Homo sapiens: one gene and its partners. The protein of the gene in region 1 purifies or fractionates together with the protein of each later gene. This does not show direct contact. Each region holds a gene or a part of one and is shown in the gene's direction. Other genes may lie near its edges. The genes, in order: UBE4B, USP34, FAM114A2, ZRANB2, VPS4B, PDS5B and HDLBP.

The links.
Region 2: the proteins of UBE4B (region 1) and USP34 fractionate together in Homo sapiens (co-fractionation; one large-scale study listed by BioGRID). This does not show direct contact.
Region 3: the proteins of UBE4B (region 1) and FAM114A2 fractionate together in Homo sapiens (co-fractionation; one large-scale study listed by BioGRID). This does not show direct contact.
Region 4: the proteins of UBE4B (region 1) and ZRANB2 fractionate together in Homo sapiens (co-fractionation; one large-scale study listed by BioGRID). This does not show direct contact.
Region 5: the proteins of UBE4B (region 1) and VPS4B fractionate together in Homo sapiens (co-fractionation; one large-scale study listed by BioGRID). This does not show direct contact.
Region 6: the proteins of UBE4B (region 1) and PDS5B fractionate together in Homo sapiens (co-fractionation; one large-scale study listed by BioGRID). This does not show direct contact.
Region 7: the proteins of UBE4B (region 1) and HDLBP fractionate together in Homo sapiens (co-fractionation; one large-scale study listed by BioGRID). This does not show direct contact.

Annotation. Positions count from the first base shown.
Region 1 is NC_000001.11:10,130,458-10,133,957, forward strand, and holds part of UBE4B (ubiquitin conjugation factor E4 B), read left to right. Parts: intron 1-42; coding exon 43-159; intron 160-257; coding exon 258-356; intron 357-1,911; coding exon 1,912-2,025; intron 2,026-3,500. UniProt on the Homo sapiens protein: Ubiquitin-protein ligase that probably functions as an E3 ligase in conjunction with specific E1 and E2 ligases. May also function as an E4 ligase mediating the assembly of polyubiquitin chains on substrates ubiquitinated by another E3 ubiquitin ligase.
Region 2 is NC_000002.12:61,345,588-61,349,087, reverse strand, and holds part of USP34 (ubiquitin carboxyl-terminal hydrolase 34), read left to right. Parts: intron 1-201; coding exon 202-332; intron 333-607; coding exon 608-1,218; intron 1,219-3,500. UniProt on the Homo sapiens protein: Ubiquitin hydrolase that can remove conjugated ubiquitin from AXIN1 and AXIN2, thereby acting as a regulator of Wnt signaling pathway.
Region 3 is NC_000005.10:154,000,911-154,004,410, reverse strand, and holds part of FAM114A2 (protein FAM114A2), read left to right. Parts: intron 1-1,441; coding exon 1,442-1,564; intron 1,565-2,020; coding exon 2,021-2,160; intron 2,161-3,500.
Region 4 is NC_000001.11:71,074,536-71,078,035, reverse strand, and holds part of ZRANB2 (zinc finger Ran-binding domain-containing protein 2), read left to right. Parts: intron 1-1,158; coding exon 1,159-1,241; intron 1,242-3,500. UniProt on the Homo sapiens protein: Splice factor required for alternative splicing of TRA2B/SFRS10 transcripts. Binds to ssRNA containing the consensus sequence 5'-AGGUAA-3'. May interfere with constitutive 5'-splice site selection.
Region 5 is NC_000018.10:63,394,977-63,398,476, reverse strand, and holds part of VPS4B (vacuolar protein sorting-associated protein 4B), read left to right. Parts: intron 1-1,223; coding exon 1,224-1,443; intron 1,444-3,500.
Region 6 is NC_000013.11:32,757,452-32,760,951, forward strand, and holds part of PDS5B (sister chromatid cohesion protein PDS5 homolog B), read left to right. Parts: intron 1-635; coding exon 636-768; intron 769-1,082; coding exon 1,083-1,202; intron 1,203-2,176; coding exon 2,177-2,239; intron 2,240-3,123; coding exon 3,124-3,269; intron 3,270-3,500. UniProt on the Homo sapiens protein: Regulator of sister chromatid cohesion in mitosis which may stabilize cohesin complex association with chromatin. May couple sister chromatid cohesion during mitosis to DNA replication.
Region 7 is NC_000002.12:241,239,173-241,242,672, reverse strand, and holds part of HDLBP (vigilin), read left to right. Parts: coding exon 1-213; intron 214-2,364; exon of another isoform or gene 2,365-2,550; coding exon 2,551-2,772; exon of another isoform or gene 2,773-2,852; coding exon 2,853-3,071; exon of another isoform or gene 3,072-3,171; coding exon of another isoform or gene 3,172-3,282; intron 3,283-3,500. UniProt on the Homo sapiens protein: Appears to play a role in cell sterol metabolism. It may function to protect cells from over-accumulation of cholesterol.

The DNA of each region.
Region 1 (3,500 bases):
GCCTGTTCAGCGGCTTGACTGGCTCTTCCATCTTCTGCCTAGGTTGCTTCTTTGCGGTTGTGGTTGCCGAAATCCTTAAGTCCTGGCTGTGGGCGGGAGCTGCAGAGACTCTCTTACTTAGGGGCTTTCTTTAGCTTCTCAGTCTTTGCAGAAGATGATGTAAGTATAGTGGCTACTTGTACTTTGCTGCCCTTTTATTCAGATTCTTTCCCAAATGTGCATTATATGTTGACTGCATTTTTTCCTTCTCTTTCCAGGTTAAAGTGGTTGAAAAATACTTCTCAGGGCCTGCCATTACCCTGGAAAACACTCGTGTGGTTAGCCAATCATTGCAGCATTACTTAGAGCTCGGAAGGGTAAGTGTTCAGAAAACAAATCCAGAGGAAGTATCAAAGATGAGCTCCAGATACAGAGCTTTTATTTTGTAGACTGGACTATGCCCAGTAGACAAACGGCTAACAAAAGCCAATTCGATCTTACATAAAAAAGATAAACTATAAGTAAGTAGCCTGTGTCTTGAATAACAGGTTGTAACAACAGCAGTATGCTGCCTTTGTATGTAGCATCACTGGGAACTGGTCCTAAGCTTAGTGGCCCGGCTCCTCCTCCAGCTGGCCCTTAGGCATTTACACTGTGAGGGTGAGCAAGGATTGTTAGTTTGCACACACCCTCACTGACTTGCTTATCCCAAATGCAGATTAATATGTCTTCAATTCTCAAACTTAAAGGCAGAGAAGGGCCGGGTGTGATGGCTCATGCCTGTAATCCCAACACTTTGGGAGGCCGAGTGGGGTGGATCACCTGAGGTCAGGAGTTTGAGAACAGCCTGGCCAACATGACGAAACCCCGTCTCTACTAAAAATACAAAAATTAGCCAGGCATGGCAGCGCGTGCCTGTAATCCCAGCTACCTAGCTACTCGGGAGGCTGAGGCACAAGGATCACTTGAACCCAGGAGGTGGAGGTTGCAGTGAGCCAAGATCACGCCACTGCACATCAGCCTGGGCGACAGAGCAAGACTCCATCTCAAAAAAAAGAAACAGGCAAAGAAGTTACAGGCTTGGGTAACTAAGGTAATTTTGATCATGGGAAAGAAGTAACAAAGCCTATTTTATTAAAACTGTAACTGCCGGCTGGGCGTGTTGGCTAATGCCTGTAATCCCAACACTTTGGGAGGCTGAGATGGGCTGATCACGAGGTCAGGAAGTCATCCTGGCCAACATGGTGAAACCTCGTCACTGCTAAAAATACAAAAATTGGCCAAGGCAGGTGGATCACGAGGTCAGCAGTTTGAGACCAGCCTGACCAACATGGTGAAACCCCATCTCTACTAAAATACAAAAAAAATTAGCTGGGCATGGTGGCGGGTGCCTGTAATCCCAGCGACTTGGGAGGCTGAGGCAGGAGAATCGCTTGAAACCGGGAGGCGGAGGTTGCACTGAGCCGAGATGTGCCACTGCACTTTAGCCTGGGCAATAAGAGCAAAACTCCGTCTCAAAAAAAAAAACAACAAAAATGCAAAAACTAGCTGGGTGTGGCGGCGTGTGCCTGTAATCCCAACTACTCGGGAGGCTGAGGCAGGAGAATGGCTTGAACCTGGGAGGCGCAGGTTGCAGTGAGCTGAGATTGCACCACTGCACTCCAGCCTGGCAACAGAGCTAGACTCTGTCTCAAAAAAAAACAAAAAACTGTAACTGCCTACCTCCCCCACTCCATATTCTGCTTTCATGCTCATTACTTTGACATAGTTGGATGTGGATATTTCTTATATTCTTTCACTCAGGCTCTTCTAAAATGAGTAGAAGTGGGAGAGGAGAGAACGTGGGAAGTAGGCTAGCTGTTCGTGAAGTCAAAAAGGAATCATGTGCAAAATAGTTTTAATTTGTTTCTTCTTTTTAAAAATAAATTTCAGCAAGAGCTTTTTAAGATTCTGCATAGTATTTTGTTAAATGGCGAAACCCGTGAGGCTGCTCTCAGTTACATGGCGGCTGTCGTCAATGCCAATATGAAGAAAGCACAGATGCAGGTAGGATTCCTACAGACTGCTTTTCGCTGTTTGTCAAATTCATTCATCTGACCCAGATTTAGTCAGCACCTACCAGGCACTGTTCTAGGAGTGGGGGTACAGTATTGAACAAGGTAGACGAGCTTCCTGCTTTTGTGGAGCCCATGTTCCACAGAATAAACAAGTAGACATATAAATACATGATTTTAGACAGTTGTATAATCAGTGAAGAAAATAGAGCAAAGTAAATGACATGAGAAGAACTGTAGGTACCAGAAGGAAGATCTGAAGGTGATTTTTGATTGGGTGGCAGGAAAGGCCTCCCTGAGGAGGTGACATTTGTTTCATAGGAAGGAGCCAGCCATTGTAGTGGCTGAGAAAAGAGCTATCCAATGTGGAAACGAAGCAGCTTTGGTACAAGCCCAGCACGCAGGCTTTTGTGGCTGGAGAAGAGTGAACAGGAGGGAATGTCGGGTCCTGGAGTTAGTGGATAGGCAGGGCGCCATCGGGTTAGGTTTACGTGATCAGAACTGTCATGGGAGGGTTTTCAGCAGGGAAACCACAAAAGCTGCTATGTAGACGGACCAAAACAGAAGGGGGCAGCCAGGAACAGACCCAAGGGGGCAGCCAGGAACAGACCCAAGAAGGCAGCTGCAAGGGCGTGAGTGCTTCGGTCCGGGTGAGACAGGCCAGTGGCTGCAGCTGCTTTGCCAGAGGAGAAAAGGGCATCCTTCCTTGACTAGTAATAAATAATGAATGAATGATGTGATGTGTATACTCAGAAGCAAAAATCATGTAGAGAGAAGAGCACAGATCTTGTGATTTCTGATCGTGGTTCCACCGTTTACTAACTGCGGGACCTTAGACAGTGACTCCTCTGTGCCTCCATTTCCTCATCTGCTAAGCTGCGGTACTACTGGTACTGGGTTTATTATATATAAAGCTGTTAGAGTGGTGCCTGGTACACAGTGATCACTCAACCAATATTAACTATCATTCTTATCATTGTTGTATTATTATTTTTTTCTTAACAGAGGTAATCAAGTTACATTGTTATATTGCTAATGCAGGAGCATGCTGATGCTGTCACCTAGAGAAACAATGTCACATGATAAGAAGTGGAGCAACTTGTTTTGATGCTCTTGAGGGAAATAAAGAGGAGAAAGAGGCCGGGCATGGTGGCTCACGCCTGTAATCTCAGCACTTTGGGAGGCCGAGGTGGGAGGATCACTTGAGCCCAGGCATTTGAGACCAGCCCTGGCGACATAATGAGACCCCATCTCTACAAAATATACAAAAGTCATCTGGGCATGGTGGCTGGTGCATGCCTATAGTTTCAGCTACTTGGGAGGCTGAGGCAAGAGGATCACTTGAGCCAGGGAGGTCGAGACCAGCCTGGGCAACATAGGGAGACCCTGTCTCTACAAAAAAAATAAAAAATTAGCCAGTATAGTGGCATAGACCTGTAGACCCAGTTATTCAGGAGGCTGAAGTGG
Region 2 (3,500 bases), on another chromosome or scaffold:
TCTTAAACATCTTGACTTTTAATTGAATCTTACATCTTCTTTAGAAATCATGAGCAAATGTTAACATATTTAGAGATTTTATTTTTGGCTACTTAGCATAAAGCTTTGGTAACTAGGTCAAGGAATCAAATGATAATGTCATTCTGTTAAGTCAATGTTAATATAAATTAGAAGTAAAAACAAAAAATGTATTTTATATAGGGTCACCTGCAGCTAGTCCTCAAAGCAGTGATAATAGCGATACACATCAAAGTGGAGGTAGTGACATTGAAATGGATGAGCAACTTATTAATAGAACCAAACATGTGCAACAACGACTTTCAGACACAGAGGTATGAAAATAGGTTTTTCTTCTTTTATAGGCATTTTTGGCTTTCTGGCGTGTTTATCATTTGAATTGGGTATATATACATAATTCATGTTTGGGCTTGTCCTCTCCTTTACGTAATATTTTTGACATCCTTTGAGTTTTTAATTCCATTTTGTATTGTTCAAAGGAGTATAACAAGACTGGCAGCCTTTTTAAAAAGTACAGTTTATTAATGTTGGTTACCTTTTTTCTTACTGGTTTAAATATTTATTTAAATCTATTTGTTTCAAAATACAGGAATCCATGCAGGGAAGTTCTGACGAAACTGCCAACAGTGGTGAAGATGGAAGCAGTGGTCCTGGTAGCAGTAGTGGGCATAGTGATGGATCTAGCAATGAGGTTAATTCTAGCCACGCAAGCCAGTCAGCTGGGAGCCCTGGCAGTGAGGTACAGTCAGAAGACATTGCAGATATTGAAGCCCTCAAAGAGGAAGATGAAGACGATGATCATGGTCATAATCCTCCCAAAAGCAGTTGTGGTACAGATCTTCGGAATAGAAAGTTAGAGAGTCAAGCAGGCATTTGCCTGGGGGACTCCCAAGGCATGTCAGAAAGAAATGGGACAAGCAGCGGAACAGGAAAGGACCTGGTTTTTAACACTGAATCATTGCCATCAGTAGATAATCGAATGCGAATGCTGGATGCTTGTTCACACTCTGAAGACCCAGAACATGATATTTCAGGGGAAATGAATGCTACTCATATAGCACAAGGGTCTCAGGAGTCTTGTATCACACGAACTGGGGACTTCCTTGGGGAGACTATTGGGAATGAATTATTTAATTGTCGACAATTTATTGGTCCACAGCATCACCACCACCACCACCACCATCACCACCACCACGATGGGTAAGCCTACTTCAAAATAAATATTCAGTTCATATTTCCTTTAGGGAAGTATTATATCCTATATTCAATTTGCAATTTATTCTGTATTAGTGCTATTCATTAGTAGTATAGTGCAAACTATAAATGTAAGCTACAAATAGATAATTTCAAGTTTTCTATTGGGCACATTTAAAAACACAAAATGAAGCAGGTTGTTGGCCATGCACAGTGGCTCACACCTATAATCCCAGCACTTTGGGAGGCCGAGGCAGGTGGATCACTTGAGGTCAGGAGTTTGAGACCAGCCTGAACAACATGGTGAAACCCCATCTCTACTAAAAATAGAAAAATTAGCCGGGCATGGTGGTGCACGCCTGTAATCCCAGCTACTTGGGAGGCTGAGGCAGGAGAATCACTTGAACCTGGGAGGTGGAGGTTGCAGTGAGCTGAGATCACACCACTGCACTCCATCCTGGGCAACAGAGTGAGACTCAAAAGCAAAACGTTGAACAACAACAATAAAAAACCAGGTTGTTAATTTTAATCATGTTAAACCAATAATATCCACAATGCCATTTACACATGTAATAAGTATAAAAATTACTAAGGTATTTCCTTCCTTTTTTTCTTACCAAGTCTTCAATATTTAGTGCATATTTTATACTTATAGCACTTTTCAATTTAGACCAGCCACCCTTTAATTCTTTAAAATATTTATTGATTTATTTGTTTTCTTCTTCTTTTTTTCTTTGAGACAGGGTCTCGCTCTGTTGCCCAGGCCGGAGTGCAGTGGCACGATCTAGGCTCACTGCAACCTCCACTTCCCAGGCTCAAACAATTCTTGTGCCTCAGCCTCCTGAGTAGCTGGAATTACAAGCACCCACCACCATGCCTGGCTACTTTTTTAGTATTTTTAGTAGAGATGGGGTTTCACCGTGTTGACCAGGCTGATCTTGAACTCCTGACCTCAGATGATCTGCCCGCCTCGGCCTCCCAAAGTGCTGGGATCACAGGTGTGAGCCACCAGGCCCGGCCTTTTTTTTTTTTTTTTTTTTTTTTGAGTTGGAATCTCACTCTGTCACCCAGGCTGGAGTGCAGTGGCACAATCTTGGCTCACTGCAACCTCCGTCTCCCAGGTTCAAGCGATTCTTCTGCTTCAGCCTACTGAGCAGCTGGGACTACAGGTGCCCCCCACCCCCCACCCATGCCTGGCTAATTTTTGTATTTTTAGTAGGATGGGGTTTCACCATATTGGCCAGGCTGGTCTTGAACTCCTGACCTTATGATTCGGCCTGCCAAAGTGCTAGGATTGCAGGCGTGAGCCACTGCACCTGGCCTTTTTTTTTTTTTTTTTTTTTTTTTTAAGAGATAGGGTCTCACTTTGTCACCTAGGCTGTAGTGCAGTGATGTGATCATAGCTCACCGTAGTCTCAAACTCTTGGGCTCAAGCAATCCTCCTGCCTCAGCTTTCTGAGCACTTGAGACTTAAGGTGTGTGTTGCCACTCCTAGCTAATTCTTAATTTTTTTTTTTTTTTTTTATAGAGACAGAGTATTGCTATGTTGCCCAGGCTGGTCTTGAACCCCAGACCTCAGTGCTTTTGCCGCAGCCTCCCAAAGCTCTGGGATTACAGGCGTAAGCTACTTATACCCAGCCTAGACCTACCATGTTTTATGTGTGTAATGGTCACATATGGCTAGTTGGTATTATATTGGATAACACAGGATTAGATTTTCAACATCTTGTAATAAATGCCTAAAAAAGATATGAGTGCTTATGGAAACTTTCCTAAATTGTGATTAAGAAAGGGAAATTTTACACATCTAATTTTAGGGTATTTAAAAGGGTAAGCTCCAGCATAAAACTTTTTGGTTATCTGTGAAATATACCAAATAATGTGATTCTGTCACTTAGTGGTGGTATTATGATGGGCAAAATAATTAATTTTTCTTCATTTTTTCAATCTATAAAATGGGAACAATAATCCTAGTGCTTTGGAGGCTAAGGCAGGAGGATCGTTTGAGGCCAGGAGCTTGAGATCAGCCTGAGCAACTTAGTGGGGCCCTGTCTCTACAAAAATATTAAAAACACTAGCCAGGCATGGTATCACACACCTGTAGTTCTAGATAATTGGGAGGCTGAGGTGGAAGGATCGCTTGAGTCCAGGAGATCAAGACTGCAGTGAGTGGTGATTGCACCACTACACTTCAGCCTGGGCAATAGAATGAGACTCTGTCTCTAAAAATAAAATGGGCACAATAGTATCTATCTCATGGTTTTATTGTGAGGATTTCCTGGGCTAAC
Region 3 (3,500 bases), on another chromosome or scaffold:
CCACTGGCATAGGATGGATGGAGAGGGAATAGGATGAGACGAGTAAAGAGTGAAGGCTAGACCTCCAAATAATATTGGCGTTTAAGAGACTGGCCAGTTAGGATCAATATATAAAAGATACTGAGGAGAAATGGTCATAAAGGTCAGAGGAGAACAGAAGAAAGTTGGGGTTACAAAAACCAAAGAAAACTAGATTCATTATCAGGAGAATGGATAAATTGTGATATATACAATCATGCATTGCTTAATGATGAGGATATGTTATGAGAACTGCATCATTAGGCAGTTTTGTCATTGGGCGAATATCAGAGAGTGTACTTACACAAACCTAGCTGATGTAGCCTGTTACACACCTAGGCTATATCGTTTAACCTATTGCTCCTGTACAAAACTGTACAGCATGTTACAGTACTGAATACTGTAGGCAGTTGCAACACAATGGTATAGAAAAGGTACAGTAAAAATATGGTATTACAGTCTTACAGGACCACCATTATATATGTGGTCTGCTGTTGACCCAAACATCATTATGTGGTGCATGACTGTATATAAAATGAAATACTACACAGCAGTTAATATGAATGAACTAATACATGCAGCAACATGGATAAATCTAACAGACATTATGTTGTGCTTAAGCCAGACACAAATTAGAATGAACTTATATTTCTATTTTTATGCATTTTAAGATTAGGAAAAATTATTTATAGTGAGCAGAAGAGGGTTTGTCTTTGGGCAGGAGGAGGGGGACATGGTTTGAATAGTATTGGCTAGGAAGGGACATGAAGGGACCTTCTAGGGATGAGGAAATATTCTATATCTTGATCACGGTTTCGTAGGCATATACACATAAAAACATTTCTTAAGCCATACTCTGAAGATTTGTGCACTTTATGTAAATTATACCTTGGTTTTTTAAAAAGCTGATTAGAGGCCGGGCGCAGTGGCTCATGCCTGTAATCCCAGCACTTTGGGAGGCTGAGGCAGGGGGATCACCTGAGGTCAGGAGTTCGAGACCAGCTTGGTCAACCTGGCGAAACCCCGTCTCTACTAAAAATACAAAAATTAGCTGGGCGTGGTGGTGGGCGCCTGTAATCCCAGCTACTCGGGAGGCTAAGGCAGGAGAATCGCTTGGACCCAGGAGGCAGAGGTTGCAGTGAGCCAAGATTGTGCCATTGCACTCCAGCCTGGGCAACAAGAGCGAAATTCCATCTCAAAAAAAAAAAAAAAATACTACCAATTAGAGAATTTTGAAAAGGAATGATGGACCACAGTGATAAGTATTGCTGAGACTAGTAGGATAAGGACTGAAAAGCTAGATGGTACGTTCAGGTAAGAACAGGAGCCCTTACTTCTAGGATGCTATTGTGTTCCTGGTAGGTGCACAGTAATTTTGGTAAACTGAATTGAATTGTTGATGGCCAATATTTTTCTTATTTAGGCAAGAAATACCGCCCACGAATGGATCAGGAAGTCTCTGACCAAGCCATTAGCAGAGAATGAAGAAGGAGAAAAACAGTCGGAAGCAGAAAATACTGAGCAAGTCAACAAAAATTCAATAGAGGTAGCCAAAGCAACTAAGCCTTTTTTGTTTGTTTTAGTAGATTTGAAATGTGTCACAATCAGGGACCCAGGCTCCTATTTTTACACTGCTGTCCGTAATTTCAACCTTGTGATCTAGGATTGTAGCATCTTAGATCCAGACTATAAGATTAAAGGAGGAGTGAAGAAAAAAAGAGAGAAAGGATGCGCGTGTGTTTTGTCATGAGGAAGGTTCCCAGAAACTGCTGCCTGACACTTGTTATCTAAATCATTTGGCCAAAACTTAGTTACTTCGTCACACCTGACTTCAGGGGAGCCCAGCTGTAAAATTATATCACTACTGTGGAAGAAGAAGACACTCTTTATTGGAAGGCAACTATTAGTCTCTGCTACAAATCCTGTAGTATGAGAGAAGTAAGGTGGTATCTTTCCACCAAATGTTTTGTTTTGCTATGCTTTGTTTTGTTTTTCCATCCAGGATATCCATGCGTTTGCAATCCGGAGCCTGGCTGAACTGACTGCCTGCTCAATTGAACTATTCCACAAAACAGCTGCATTGGTTCTGCATGGCAGGAAGCAGGAAGTGACAGCCATAGAAAGGAGCCAAACTCTTTCCCAGTAAGTGTAATGAGAATTCCTCTAAATGATGCAAATTGCAGGAGTTTTCTTGGCCTGTTTCCAAAGTTTTATAAACGTCTCTCTCAAGAAACCATTCACGTCACACCCATCCACATATTAGATGGTTTGTTCATTTTGGTTGTTTTTTTCTTTTCATTGAACCATGATAAATCAATATTATAAATATGCCCTTTTTATTAACCAACTCATGCTCTGAAGACTATTTCTTTACAGATAAGTTTTAATAGGAATGGAATTTGGTATAAGTGAAAACAGAGAAGAGTTCTAAGAACCTCAGTTCTTAATAATAGTTATTATTGAGTGCTAATTTTATACCATTCCAAGTGCCATGCTAAGGGATTTGCATGTATAATTTCTAATTTTTATACCTCCAAAAGTAAGTAATTAGTCCAGTTTTAATCATGAGGAAATGCAAACTGGAGGAGTTAAGTAATCTGTCTGTGCTGTATGGCCTGGGATTTAGCCCCAGGTCTGACTGAGTGTCCTGAACCCATTCTTTTTTTCTCATTTTATTGCTGATTTGTACAAAAATTTTTCAAAAATAGTATAGATAATCATAGGTAGGGAAGAAAAAGCCCAGTAGTTTCTAAGCAAATGTCCTGATTAAAATAATGAGAATTTTCATTGGAAACAAATGTATAAGAGTGCCCATTATTAGAACTGGGAGGGGCTGTCAGTCTTCTGCAGACTTCCTCTTTACTTGCACCATCACCATCCCACTACAGCACCCCATAATAGGGGGCTAATTTGTCTTCTTGAACTTCCTTAAGGATGAGAGACTCACAACCCTAAAAGGAGCCTGTTCTGCGGAAAAGAGGCTATTTCTGCTACTTGGAATGTTCTTTGAAATGGGGTTCACTCCCTCTCTGAATTCAAGTCTACTCAAATGCCACCTTTTTAGAAAAGCCTTCCTTCACCACAAAGTCTAAAATAGCAACTTCCACCATTCTCTGTCCTTTTACTCTGCTTTATTGTCTTAGCTTATATCACCAAGTAGGACTTACATGTATATGAATATATATGTGTGTATATGTATACATATGTGTGTATGTGTATATATGTATATGTATATAGTCTCCCCCTTAATTTAGCAAGTAAGTTGAAATCCATGAAAACTGGGACTTTTCTTGTTCACTGATATGTTCCCATTGCTTGAAAGACTTTAAATAAAATCTGGCACACACAAGACTTTAGGTAACTATTATTAAAGATGGACTAATCACTTACTTTTGGAGTTGTTGTAAAAATTAGAAATGATACATGTAAATCCCTTAGCATGGTGCCTGGCATAAAATTAGCACCCAGTAACTAATAACTAA
Region 4 (3,500 bases), about 61 Mb from region 1:
GTCTAATTATAGGTAGGTTTCTTAATGATTTTTATTTTCAGGCTTAGATTTAATTCTTCATTGATTTTTCCAACTTCCATCTTTTCTCTATGCAGATGAATCCTATGTGTATGAAAGAGGTCTAAATCAAAAAAGTATTAAATAAATTTCTCTTTTTGTTTGTTTGTATTTTTTGTTTTTGAGATGAGGTCCCACTCAGTCACCCAGGCTGGAGTGCAGTGGGGCGATCTCAGTTCACTGTAACCTCTACCTCCCAGGCTCAAGCAATCCTCTCACTTCAGCCTCCTTAGTAACTGGGACCACAGGCCCATGCCACCATGCCTGGCTCATTTTTTTATATTTTTGGTAGAGACAGGGTTTTACCATGTTGCCCAGGATGGCCTCGAACACCTGAGCTCAAGCATTCTGCCTGCCTTGGCCTCCCAAAGTGCTGGGATTACAGGCGAGGCATGGGCCACTATTCCTGACCCTAGAGTCTTAAATAAATTTCTGATCCTCAGGATTATAAATTTGTATTGGAAAAGTTTCCAGCTACAGATTTGGTCACTGGATTTGGTATGCTTTGGAATTCAGTGCTTGAACTGAGACCTCAAAAAAATAAATTAATATTATTTATAGGGTATAACCATACTCTTTAAGGTATATTCAGAGACTGAGAAATTAGTGGAGCTGTTAATTTAAAGTTATATTTTTTCATAAGACATCAGAATTTCTATACAGGTTCAGTATCACTTACCTGAAATGTTTGTGGGTTCAGCATCCCTAATCTGAAAATCTGAAATGCTCCTGTGAGCGTTTCTGTTGAGTGTCATGTCCTCTCTCAAAAAGTTTTAGATTTTGGAACGTTTTTGGATTTTGGATTTGTGGATTAGTGATACTCGACCTGTGGTTATAATTTGTCATTTACTTCTCAAAATGACAGAGGCACTTTTCATACTATATAAATTTTGCTTCTCTGCTTAAATGGTTCAGTCCGTTGTTGGAACCCACATTTACTCTTCAGGCCACTGTACATTTTCTTTGTTTACATTACCACTTAATAAACATTTCTTTGACAGTGGTTTCATCCTAGTTTTTATTTTAAAATTGTAAAATATCTAAAAATTTGATATTCATCTATATTATAGCCTACTAATTTAGTATTTTTCACTTCTAAAGTTGCAGCAATGTGAATTGGGCCAGAAGATCAGAGTGTAATATGTGTAATACTCCAAAGTATGCTAAATTAGAAGAAAGAACAGGTATGATAAAACCACATTGTAACTAAATGATTTTTTTTAAAGCACTAAATATTGAAACGATAATTGTATCACCTTCGAGTAAGAGCCACAGTAAGTGAGGATTCTGTTTATTCTGCCCTGAATGTTTGTTACTGGGATTTTTTTCCCCCCATACACACATACAAATCTTTTGTTTCACAATTTATAAAATAACAGTGTTAGGGACCTTTATCCTAACAAGGAGGGACATAAGAATACTTTCAGAAATATTCTCCTCCTCTCCCTTTCACTGGTTTGCATGTTTGTTATTAGTAATGATATAATGATACCATTTTTAAATTCTTTTGATAGCCTGCTGTGACTTAAAGGGCAAAGCCACACCATTTAAAGTGTTCTTCTAAAGCTTTGGCAGTAATTCTGAAACTTAAGCTATGTGCTAGATTATCTGAAAAACTTTTTCAAATATCGATTGCAAAATGCAGAACTGTTAAAGTTATTTGGCGGTGGGTTTCCAACATCTGCAGGTTTTTTGGATGGTGTTTGATAATCATTGGCCTAAATAATAGTTGATCATTGGCTTTGTATGTTACTGGTGAAATGAAAATGTTTACCTAATAGCATATAGTTTTTCCATTATCACCAATTAGCCCAACCACATTATCTGTTTACTTAAAATCTGATTTTGTCTTTCAACTGCTTATATGTCACATGATCAAAGGATTCCTTCTATATCTAGTCACCCTGTCAGACTTAGGCTTGGTGAACTGCTTCCCTGTTTTCTTTGCCTCTCTAACTTTAGGCCGTTTTCATTGTCTGTTTAGTTTCTAGGGATCAGAGGGCCACTGTTCAATCTTTTCGACCTAGCTCTTCCAGACTTCAACAGAAATTCTACTTTTATCCCCCCCCACCCCTTTTTTAAAACTTACATTCTCATATGTGAGAACATTATAACATAATGTCCTTGATCCCCCCTTCCCCAGCCCAACCGCCACTTTCAACCCTCAAATCCTGCCTTATTCTTAGGAAGTGATTTTGCCTTTCCACCGATTGGGTAAGTTAAGGCCTTCTGACAAGGATCTCGTTTTTTTCTTCCCTCACCTAAGGTATGCACCGTACCTCCTTCACCGCCCCCACCAACCCCCGTTTGATTGATTGTTTATTCTGTCTCCTTTGCAGGTTTCTCTTCTTTTGGCCACTGATGTTGGGATTCTTCGCAGCCATCCCTGGCCCTCTTTCTTTCCTCTATTTTCATGGTGTTTTCTTCTAAGCCCAAAGTTTAAGTAACTTTGCCATGATAACCCAAGTTTATGTCTCCAGCTCAGACTTCTTTGACCCATATATCCAGCTGCCTATTCAACATTGCCATGCAAATGTCAAACTCATTATATTCAAACTGAATTTGTGATTTTACCCCTGGGACCTGACCCTCTTCCAATGATCTCTTTCTCATGATTAGTACCACTCACCATACATTTATTACATAAGCTGGAAATCTAGATGTCCTTCTTAGCCTAAATAGCCCTTTCTTGATATCTCCCATACCCCAAAAATTCTTTTCCATTACCACCCTAGGCAAAGAATTACTATGTTTTGTGGAAAAATAGCCACCTAGCTGGTTTCTACATGTTTTTATTTCCAAATTTAAAATCCTTTTTTAAAAAACCCATTTTGATTGCTTTTAGGATAAAGTCTAAAATCTTTTTAACAGTTTCAAAACTTAAAAAAACTTTGACCTATTTCCTGACTCCTTTATAGTTTCATTATCACAAGAACTATAGTTTAACAGAGAAGTAAGCAAATTTTATTTGATAACTTCTCACTTTTCTTATTGTCATTTTTCAGTCATTCTGGTGTCTTGAACCTTTCTCACTTCCCTTGCTACAAGTATTTGTCTTTGCTGGTAACAGTTGAAGGTGTGAAATAACTTACTCTGTTGCTTTCCGCTTTCTTTTGGCTATTTGTAATAAAGCAGTGCAGGGTTTGGGGAGCATTTCCTAAGCATGAGACAGGATATGAATAAAAGAGAATGTGATTCACTACCTCTGAAAGATTGCTGCTGGCTTATCCTGCATAATTCCATCAAATTGTTCAGTAATTTACTTCTCTGTTTCAGGATTTAGGATTATTTTTGTTTTTGTCAGCTTTTTTTTAAAAAAAAAACCATTAAAGATAATGGCATAAAAACAAACTTAGTACATTGTGATTTTTATTCTTTTGGATTCTTTCCTTAGAATATGTTCTCAGGAGTTGAATTAATTGTTCAGGGTGTAGAATCACAGA
Region 5 (3,500 bases), on another chromosome or scaffold:
AAACCAAGGTAGGCAGATTGCCTGAGCTCAGGAGTTCAAAACCACCCTGGGCAACGTGGTGAAACCCTGTCTCTACTAAAATCCAAAAAAATTACCTGGCCATGGTGGCGCACACCTGTCTGTAGTCCCAGCTACTCGGGAAGCTGAGGTGGGAGAATCGCTTGAGCCCAGGAGGCGGAGGTTGCAGTGAGCCAAGATTGTGCCACTGCACTCCAGCTTGGGCAACAGAGTGAGACTCCATCTCAAAAAAAAATATATATATATATATATATGTGTGTGTGTGTGTATATATGTATATGTGTATATGTATATATGTATACACACACACATCTATCTATCTAATTTTTAAGTTGAAAATGAAACTTCAGTTCTAGGAAAGGTATACGGACTCTTCACTTTTCACTCTTCACAGTTCTGTATTACATTCATTTATTTTGTATGGTAAAAATTAGCACTTCAGTTTTTGCCACTTTTATCCCATTCACTTGATGATTTGCGCCAGCATTCTAGCTTACCATCCAGTACCAAGAAAGGAAATGTGCAGGGTATTTTTGAAAAATTGCCTTATTCTGCACCCATCTCTAGAGGCAACGGAAACTTTAAATTCTTTTCATTGTCACAGAGAGTTACCTGGAGAAAAAACAGTCTGCTCAGACCACTTAAATTATCCCTCATCGTTGCTTCTCTGTCTCCAAATACCGAAATTCTAAGAAAGCAAGCAAAATTATTGTTAATGAAACATAGTGTTTATTCTTTATAATATAGGATTGTTCTGGATGTATTCATTAAAGTGGACATTTTGTGTAATATATATCCTATAAGATTGTGAGGTAATTCTGTTTTGAATGTAGAGAATTACTGTGTCATCTCTACTCCTGTTTTATATTGTTAATCATTAGTCCCTTGATCAAGAGTTCAGAGTACAATTTTGTGGGAAACTGTAACCCTGTAGGACCTCTTTTTATTTCATGAATTCCAGACATAGGAACACTGTGGCCAAAATAACCCAAAAATGCACGAAAGATTCAGCCACTTCAAACTGGCTCCCAGGCTATTTTGATTTTATTTGTTTGTTTTTAATGTGTTCTGGATATTATCCCTTTAACCTAAATATATATGTTTAACCTTGGCACATACAGGCCCACTTAACTTAGTATCTGTTTCTTCTTGGAAATATCCTAATTTTCAATTAAATATATTCTTGATGTAATTTCTCTTTTAAGATTTGAGAAACGAATTTATATTCCCTTGCCGGAACCCCATGCCCGAGCAGCAATGTTTAAACTGCACCTAGGGACCACTCAGAACAGTCTCACGGAAGCAGACTTTCGGGAACTTGGGAGGAAAACAGATGGTTATTCAGGGGCAGATATAAGTATCATTGTACGTGATGCCCTTATGCAGCCTGTTAGGAAAGTACAGTCAGCTACTCATTTTAAAAAGGTAAGTCATTTTTATCTATCCTTTCCTATCTTTTTTTTTTTTTTTTGAGACAGTCTCACTCTGTTGCCCAGGCTGGAGTGCAGTGGCACTATCTGGGCTTGCTGCAACCTCCGCCTCCCGGGTTCAAGCAATTCTCATGCCTTAGCCTCCTGAGTAGCTGGAATTACAGGCGTGTGCCACCACGCCTGGCTAATTTTTTGTATTTTTAGTAGAGACAGGATTTCACCATGTTGGCCAGGCTGGTCTCGAACTCCTGACTCCAGGTGATCCACCCACCTCGGCCTCCCAAAGGCGTGAGCCACTGCGCCTGGCCCTTTTCCTGTATTTTTAAAATCAAGTTTCAAGACCGTCATTGGTTTGTCTTCAAAGAATTTGGGAGGATTTCAGTGTTGTATAATAATACCATAAGTGGGTTTACATAATAGACATATTTCTGTGTCACTGAAACAAGTTCTTTAATAAAGTTTATTTATTGGCCATTTTTGGCTGGGTGCAGTGCCCCATACCTGTAATCCCAGCACTTTAGGAGGCCGAGGTGGGCAGATCTCTTGAGCTCAGGAGAGACCAGCCTCAGGCAACATGGCAAAACCCCATCTCTGTAAAAAATACAAAAATTAGCTGGATGTGGTGGCACACTCCTGTAGTCCCAGCTACTTGGGAGGCTGAAGTGGGAGAATCTCTTGAGCCCAGGAGGTGGAGGTTGCAGTGAGCCGAGATTGCACCAGTGTACTCCAGCCTGGGTGACACAGTGAGACCCTGTCTTAAAAAAAGAAAAGGCCTTATTAATCATCCTAATGTGTTTTAAATTTTCCTATGAAATGATTTTTGAAGTATTTGTGTATTATTTTGATATAAGTATAGAAACTTAAATGTACAGATGTAAGGCTGCTTCTGACACATCTAGAATATTTTTGAGTAGAATCTGGTGCATTTATACCTCATAAAGTAAAAATAATAATAGCTAATATCTTTTAAATATTCACATGCCTGGCACTGTGTTCTGTCTTTTATCTTACTATTTCATTTGGTCTTCACAAAAATCAGCAAGAGAGGTACATGTAGCCAGCCACCTAATGGTGGTTAGTCTTGGACGTAGGTGCTAACACAGTAGCTAGAGTGGGACAGACATGTGATTTGCCTGGAGGTGAGGTGTGTTTCCAAATCTGAAATCTCAGCCATTCTGCTATCCTGCCCCTCCTGTGTTCTGTTTTGTCTGCAAGAACAAGTTAAGCATCTGTGGCTGAGATAAAGTTTTATAAGAAGGCTGTGGTCTTGAGATACCCAGTTTGAGTAACAATGAACTAGGTAATCTGGACCAACCCTTTTGCTGTGAACAACAGTATCCAGTATTACTCATGAACATACATGTGAAAAACTATTAGCAAACCTAATCTCATAATGTATGTCAAGACTAATATGACTAAGTCACATACGTATATTTATCATGTACCATAATAAGATTTTTTTAAGTTAACAAGCTTGAATTAAAATCTGAATTTGAAGCCTGGCACCATTTACTTGTTATACCTTTTTGAGCAAATTCTATTACTTCTTTAAAGCTCATTTTTATCATTTCTAAAATGGGGATGTGATAATGCTATTTTGAAGTCCTTTCCAATAATGAAGTGATATAATACTCATAAAACACCAGTCGTGGTACTTCAGATGCGTAGGGAATGTTACTCATCCACCCTTCTTCAGCCATTTCATTACTGAAGTACTGTTAAGTTTATGCCACAGCCATTATGTTTTTTCTTAAATTCTCTTTGCCATTTAGAAACTATAAATGCATAGGAACTCAGTCCTTTCCTACTGAGAGTTTGTCACTCAATTCTGCATATTACTGCCAGGGTGAGCTCACATGACGCTGAAGCCAGGTCCTTGTTAGTGGGATGAAGGTGACACAGCCAGATGAGTTTTATCTCTGCAGCTGGGGATCACCAGCTGCAGCAGACCTCTCAGCGGCTCCATCCTTTACTTCTTTTAAAGCTGATTATTTCAGTTAACAAGAAGAAGATTCCCTGTTTATTTTTTGCATTTACTAGTATTTTATTTCT
Region 6 (3,500 bases), on another chromosome or scaffold:
ATCAACTATAACTTTGTTCCTTTCTGTCTCTATAATACATAGGCAAAACACTTTCATTTTGTATTGAATAGAGTTTTACGTAATTAAGTTTAAAACTGAGCTACTGAAGCTTTCTTTTAATTTTTCCCTTTTTAAGCAAAGACAATGCTTATAATTGTCAATCTTGACTTTTTCTCTCTATTATTGAATATTCTTAACTGTTCATATTTAATAAGGCAGTTATATTCTCTTGAAGAGTTCCCATCAGGACTGTAGTCAGTCTTGAGTATCTGAGGCCTCACTTGATCCGTGGCCCCACTATTCCTTTGACAGTCTTTAACTCCCTGTCATAGCTGAGGGTTAAGATAACTTCATCCTTTCTACCATTTATGTTTCCCCTTTAACCCGCCTCCTTGGAAATCTGGTGAGATTTTAAGAAGGGATCTTATAAGCTCATATCTGCATTGTTGACCTGTTTTTATATGTTTGTATGACATATTCTTTTTCCCTGCTGGTTTGTAACTGTTTCTTTTTTTTTTTTCTTCCTGGAGTTATATTATCTAGGTTTGTTATATTTATATTTAGAATTATTGTATCTATATTTAACAAAGGATGATTTTCTTCTATATTTCTTTTTTCCTTTTTTTTTTTTTTAGATGTCTTTGGTTTGTTCTGGAAATATTAATGGCTAAAAATGAAAATAACAGTCACGCTTTTATCAGAAAGATGGTAGAAAATATTAAACAAACAAAAGATGCCCAAGGACCAGATGATGCAAAAATGAATGAAGTATGTAATTCTTTGTAAATAATTATGGTTCCATATTGATTTAAAAATTTAGGTGTAAAGTATGAAACTTCTGTAGTATTTATAGATAGCATCAAATAATTTTTTCTATTAGTAATTAGAATTACGTAGAATTAGCAGTAATTTTATTACAAGTAAATGAGCAAAACCAGTAGTGTAAGCTAAGATGCTTACACAGACTGTTGCTTTCATTAGTTTGCTATTCAGACTGGATTCATGTTCTGAAATTATTCCTAGTTTACAGAGTCTAGATTGCCAGCTTAAGTATCTGTGTTTTTAAAAATATACTATTGCAGAAACTGTACACTGTGTGTGATGTTGCCATGAATATCATCATGTCAAAGAGTACTACATACAGTTTGGAATCTCCTAAAGACCCGGTACTACCAGCTCGTTTCTTCACTCAACCTGACAAGGTAGTTACTTTACAATTTGTTTGTGTAAGTTGAAATAAAATGTATTCTCAGCACTGGATTGTAGGAAGATCAGGAAGGATCATGGAAAAATTGCTGTGAGTCTTAAGAATGTGATTTAAGATCAGAACCAGAATATGAGTCAAACTGGAGGACACACATAAGGTTCAGATATTAGGATGATCTGGTGTTTATGTTCAGTTTTAAGACAGTCTTAGAGCGCAGGTAGAAATGTGATCAAAGCATGTGAATCTGTGAATTAATGGCCATTGTTCAAAATGGGAAGGAGAGTGCTGATAGAGATACAGTCTGAAGTTAAAAGCCCTTTATTGGGATTTATAATTGGTATGAGGAAACAAGCAGAGAACAGACACTAGAACATGCCTAAGACCCTGGGAATACTACAAGAGTGTTACCAAACCATGCTCCAAAAACTCGAGTGTGATATAAGATGTAAAAAGTGTTTCCCACAGTCCCTCTTACTCCTTTATAATTTATTTATTTAATTCCTCGTAATTTAGCTGAACATATTGAGTAACAGAGTCTGGAAATAACCACTATCCTCTTTTTGCTTTTAAAGCAAAATGCCAGTTAAGACCTTACCAGTGTATAGAGATTTGGAACAGGCCTGTAGGATTGCTCAGTAGCTAAAAGGGCTGTCACGTTGGTGTGAGCAGAGTAATAGGAATATGTACATGTGGTCTTTCCCCTGAAGGGTGTTATTAAAGAAGCATGTGTTTTCTGATGCACTCTTAGAGCTCTAACATGTTAGAGCTCAAATATGTTTTGTTAATATTAGAGTTGGCATGAGGTTGGTTTAACCTTATTACAGTAGTTAAAATCAGTGACTGAAATTTTGTGTTTCATATGATAATTTAGTTTAAATAAAAAAACTGCTGTTTGCTTTGTTGGCTTTTGAACCACCTGTAGATAGTGTTTTAATATTCACTGACTACTTCTTTTTCTCTTGGTTGTAGAATTTCAGTAACACCAAAAATTATCTGCCTCCTGAAATGAAATCATTTTTCACTCCTGGAAAAGTATGTTTTGAGAATCATTTTAATTTTTATGTGGTAGCTTATTTTAGAGTGATTATTGGCAAAATTGTGTTATTTTGTATTTCTTCAAAAATTTATATTTTCAAGCTGGAAAATATAAGAATTAACGATCTTACATTTACTAGTAAGAAATAATTATATTTACTAGATATACACAAGCTGAAATACACAAATTACTTTTTAGCTTGTAATAAAGTCCTAGGAGACCTGATTCTTAGACTTCTTAGGTTAATATCAAGATAAAAAAAATCTTAAAAGGCTTTTTTTTTTGAGACGGAGTCTCTGTTGCCCAGGCTGGAGTGCAGTGGCGCATCTCGGCTCACTGCAAGCTCCGCCTCCTGGGTTCAAGTCATTCTCCTGCCTCAGCCTCCTGAGTAGCTGGGACTACAGGTGCCTGCCACCACGCCTGGCTAATTTTTTGTATTTTTAGTAGAGACGGGGTTTCACTGTGTTAGCCAGGATGGTCTCGATCTCCTGACCTCGTGATACACCCGCCTTGGCCTCCCAAAGTGCTGGGATTACAGGCGTGAGCCACTGCACCCGGCCAAAAAAGCATATTCTTATGTCTTTCCATGGCAAGAGTCTAATTATCTATTTTCATTGTTGATTATTCATTTCATTTGTTCTCACTTTTTATGTAAGCCGTTTTCTCCAGATAACTAAGAAATTCAACTGTTATGCTGTCTGTATAGTTTTTAATTTGTTCAAGTGATATTTAGTTTATACTTATTACTTTGCTTAAGGATAGACACATTTTTCATGATTTGTAAGTAAATACTTTGAGAGAGATGTTATTTATGGTTCTTTACACGTAACTTTCTTTTGGCTTTAACCAAATAAAAAGAGATGTGCATTTCTCATTTCAGCCTAAAACAACCAATGTTCTAGGAGCTGTTAACAAGCCACTTTCATCAGCAGGCAAGCAATCTCAGACCAAATCATCACGAATGGAAACTGTAAGCAATGCAAGCAGCAGCTCAAATCCAAGCTCTCCTGGAAGAATAAAGGGGAGGTAAGTGCAAAAGAAATGCCACAATTTACATTTAAGGATTCCAGCAAGGCTATGAGATCTGAAATAATATAATCCAAAATGTTTCATGTCAGTAAATGGAAAGTAATGTATTACTTAATTTTTCCATTTAACATTGGTAGTCACAAGTTCATACTTATTTGCTTGCTCATTTTGGATGGGTGCTCTGTCTTAGTCTTTCATTCTTTAGCTTGTTGGGGGTAATCTGTGTTA
Region 7 (3,500 bases), on another chromosome or scaffold:
ATAGCCGAGGTAGAGGTCTCCATCCCTGCCAAGCTGCACAACTCCCTCATTGGCACCAAGGGCCGTCTGATCCGCTCCATCATGGAGGAGTGCGGCGGGGTCCACATTCACTTTCCCGTGGAAGGTTCAGGAAGCGACACCGTTGTTATCAGGGGCCCTTCCTCGGATGTGGAGAAGGCCAAGAAGCAGCTCCTGCATCTGGCGGAGGAGAAGGTGAGCATGGGGAGGGAGCGTGACTCTTGGCAGGAAGCCTGGTCCTCAGTACAGTGTTCTCGCTTCTCACTGTGGAAACCCCTGAATGCCCTTCCTTTGTGGCGGGTCAGAAAACAGCTCTATAATGTACTGTTTATGCGTCTTTGTTTTTGCTGTTACTGGAGGGCCTTTCCAGGTCCAAACGCTCACATATGCAATATATAAAAGTTGGTCTTTGGCTTATTAGTTTTGGGGTGCTTTTGTTTTTTAAATATGATTTACAGTAAAATTGGCCATTCTTCAGGTATAGTTGAGTTTTAAGTAACATGCAGTCATGTGACCACAATCATCAAAATTCATTTTCCATCACCCCTAAAGATTGCCCATGGAATTGCTGTTGTCCTTGTGTCAAAACCCATCTGTGGGTATGTTTCCGGGCTCTTCTGGTGACACCAGGTTTATGGGAAGTCTGGAAATCAGTAGTGTGAGCCCTCTTAACTTTGGCTGTTCTACACCCCTTGCTGATCAGCCTGTCAATTTGTAGGAAAAAAGCACTTTCACGTTTTGATTGGGATTGTGTGAAATTTGAAGATGAGACTGGCGAGGATTGACAGCTCAGCAGTTTTGACTTTTGCAGGCATTTCTCCATTTTTTTTAGGTCTGTGATTCTTTATTGGTGTTTTATAATTTTTAGCACATTTTTATGTTCGACTTAACAGATCTAACTACTGTTACTCTTTTAGTGCTATTGTAAATGGCACTTTTTTTCCATTTCCAGTTGTTAGCACATGGAAGTGCCTGTGGTTTTTGTATGTTGACCTTCACGAGGCTGCTAAATAAAGCTCATGTATATTAGCGCCAGTCACTGTTTTGTGGATTTTTTTTTTTTTTTTTTTTTTTTTTTTTTTTTTTTTGAGACGGAGTCTTGCTCTGTCGCCCAGGCTGGAGTGTAGTGGCGCAATCTCGCCTCACTGCAAGCTCCGCCTCCTGGGTTCACGCCATTCTCCTGCCTCAGCCTCCCGAGTAGCTGGGACCACAGGCGCCCGACACCTCACCCAGCTAATTTTTTGTATTTTTAGTAGAGATGGGGTTTCACAGTGTTAGCTAGGATGGTCTCGATCTCCTGACCTCGTGATCCGCCCGCCTCGGCCTCCCAAAGTGCTGGGATTACAGGCGTGAGCCACTGCGCCCGGCCCACTGTTTTGTGGATCCTTATTTTATATGTCACAATCACGTGGTCTGTGGACAGTTACATTTCTCTCTAATCTGGAGCCTTGTATTTCTTGTCTTTTTTGTTGTTGTTATTAGATTGATGTTTTTGTCTTTGTGTTTAACCAGCCTTGCGTTTCTGGGGTAATCCCTGCTTGGTTTGGTAGGTTGTCTTTGGCCATATTGCTAGATTGCATTTGCCTAATTGATTGCCTAATGTTTGACTAATGCTGCTATTTGTGGATGTCTTTGAAAAGTAGCAGAGTCTCTAGGTGGTATTTGGTGAAACCTGCACTTAAAAGGTAGCAAAGTTGTTATTTAATATTTTTGTGCTAGCATGTTTTTCTTTGGTATTTTTGCTTGCGGGCCAGATCTTGGGTCCGGAGAAAGGCAAGAGCTCCCCGTGTGGACCTGAGTCCCGTGGAGCAGCGCCCTTCTCGGGGCCCCTGCGTGGGTCTGCCAGAAGCACTGGTGTCCACAAGCAGTGTCCGGGGCCTTTCCAGGACCCTCGTTTTCTTACTGCCACACAAGGGCGTCGCACTACACGAGGCCTCTGAGGACCGGTCTCTAACTGTAGCCTTGGTTGGCTTGTGTCCCTCTGAGCTTGAGCTTGAGCCTGGGGAGTGGCTGGTTTTGTGGAGGCTGATCTGTAGCACTCGTGGGAAGAAAGGGAGCCTGGCCCAGATTTGTGTGTGCTTGGTCTGGAAGCAGGTAGAAGAGTGGGAGCATGGTGCACACCTCTTGGGCAGCTTGCTTCCTGCTCTGCTGGGCACACCCCACGCTCCCCAGGACGTGCACTCCGCCAACATATCGTCCGGCGCGTTGCTCCCACCTCCCCCTGTGCAGATCAAAAATGGCTTGGAGAAGTTTGGTCAGTGCTTGTAAGTGGCAGGACCAGGGTTCTAAGCCTGTGTGTTCATCCCACCAGCATCTGGTTGTTGTGGAAGAGAAGTAGGTGTGCAGTCTGGGTATTCATCTGTTTATTCAGTGAGGTGTGCTAGCCCCATTTTGGGGGTATTGGTGCAACATCAGGACACTGGTGACAATGTAAGGGGAGCCCGAGCTTGCTGTCCTACAGACCCTCTTGTCTTCCTCACTGTGGTCCAGGCACGTGGTGTCAGGCTAACACAGTGGGATTGGTTTCTGCAGCAAACCAAGAGTTTCACTGTTGACATCCGCGCCAAGCCAGAATACCACAAATTCCTCATCGGCAAGGGGGGCGGCAAAATTCGCAAGGTGCGCGACAGCACTGGAGCACGTGTCATCTTCCCTGCGGCTGAGGACAAGGACCAGGACCTGATCACCATCATTGGAAAGGAGGACGCCGTCCGAGAGGCACAGAAGGAGCTGGAGGCCTTGATCCAAAACCTGGTAGGGAGCGGGCCTCGGCGGCCGACTCTGCTGGGGCCGTGATGGGGTGGCTTATCTTCCATCTCTTCTTAACACTGCAGGATAATGTGGTGGAAGACTCCATGCTGGTGGACCCCAAGCACCACCGCCACTTCGTCATCCGCAGAGGCCAGGTCTTGCGGGAGATTGCTGAAGAGTATGGCGGGGTGATGGTCAGCTTCCCACGCTCTGGCACACAGAGCGACAAAGTCACCCTCAAGGGCGCCAAGGACTGTGTGGAGGCAGCCAAGAAACGCATTCAGGAGATCATTGAGGACCTGGTAGGCACTTGGGTGCTCGGGGAGGGGTTCTCACCCCCCAGTGGCCACTCACCGAAGCCGTGTATGAGTGTTCGCTCCACCCTGTAGGGAGGTGACTCCCTCATACAGCCCTGGAAGGCTTCAGAAGGGGCTTTCTGGTGCTCGCTCTTCTTTCCTCAGCCTGTCTGGCCTCCTTCCTGATAGTTGGTGAGAATTCTGCCTGCGAGAAGCACTTAAAAAAAAAAAGAGAGAGAGAAGGAGAAGAGGAGAGGGGAGAGAGAGAGAGGAAAGAAAGCAAGAGAAAGAAAGAAAATGCATTCTGTATAAGGGATCAGGAAAAATGAAAATGCAGTCTAAGGGGTCAGCTCTCTTCTCCCCTCTGTGAAGGAAAGAAAATCGATTTGAGGGCATCCACGTGAATCCATGGGAAGTCATGAGAAGACGTGGTCT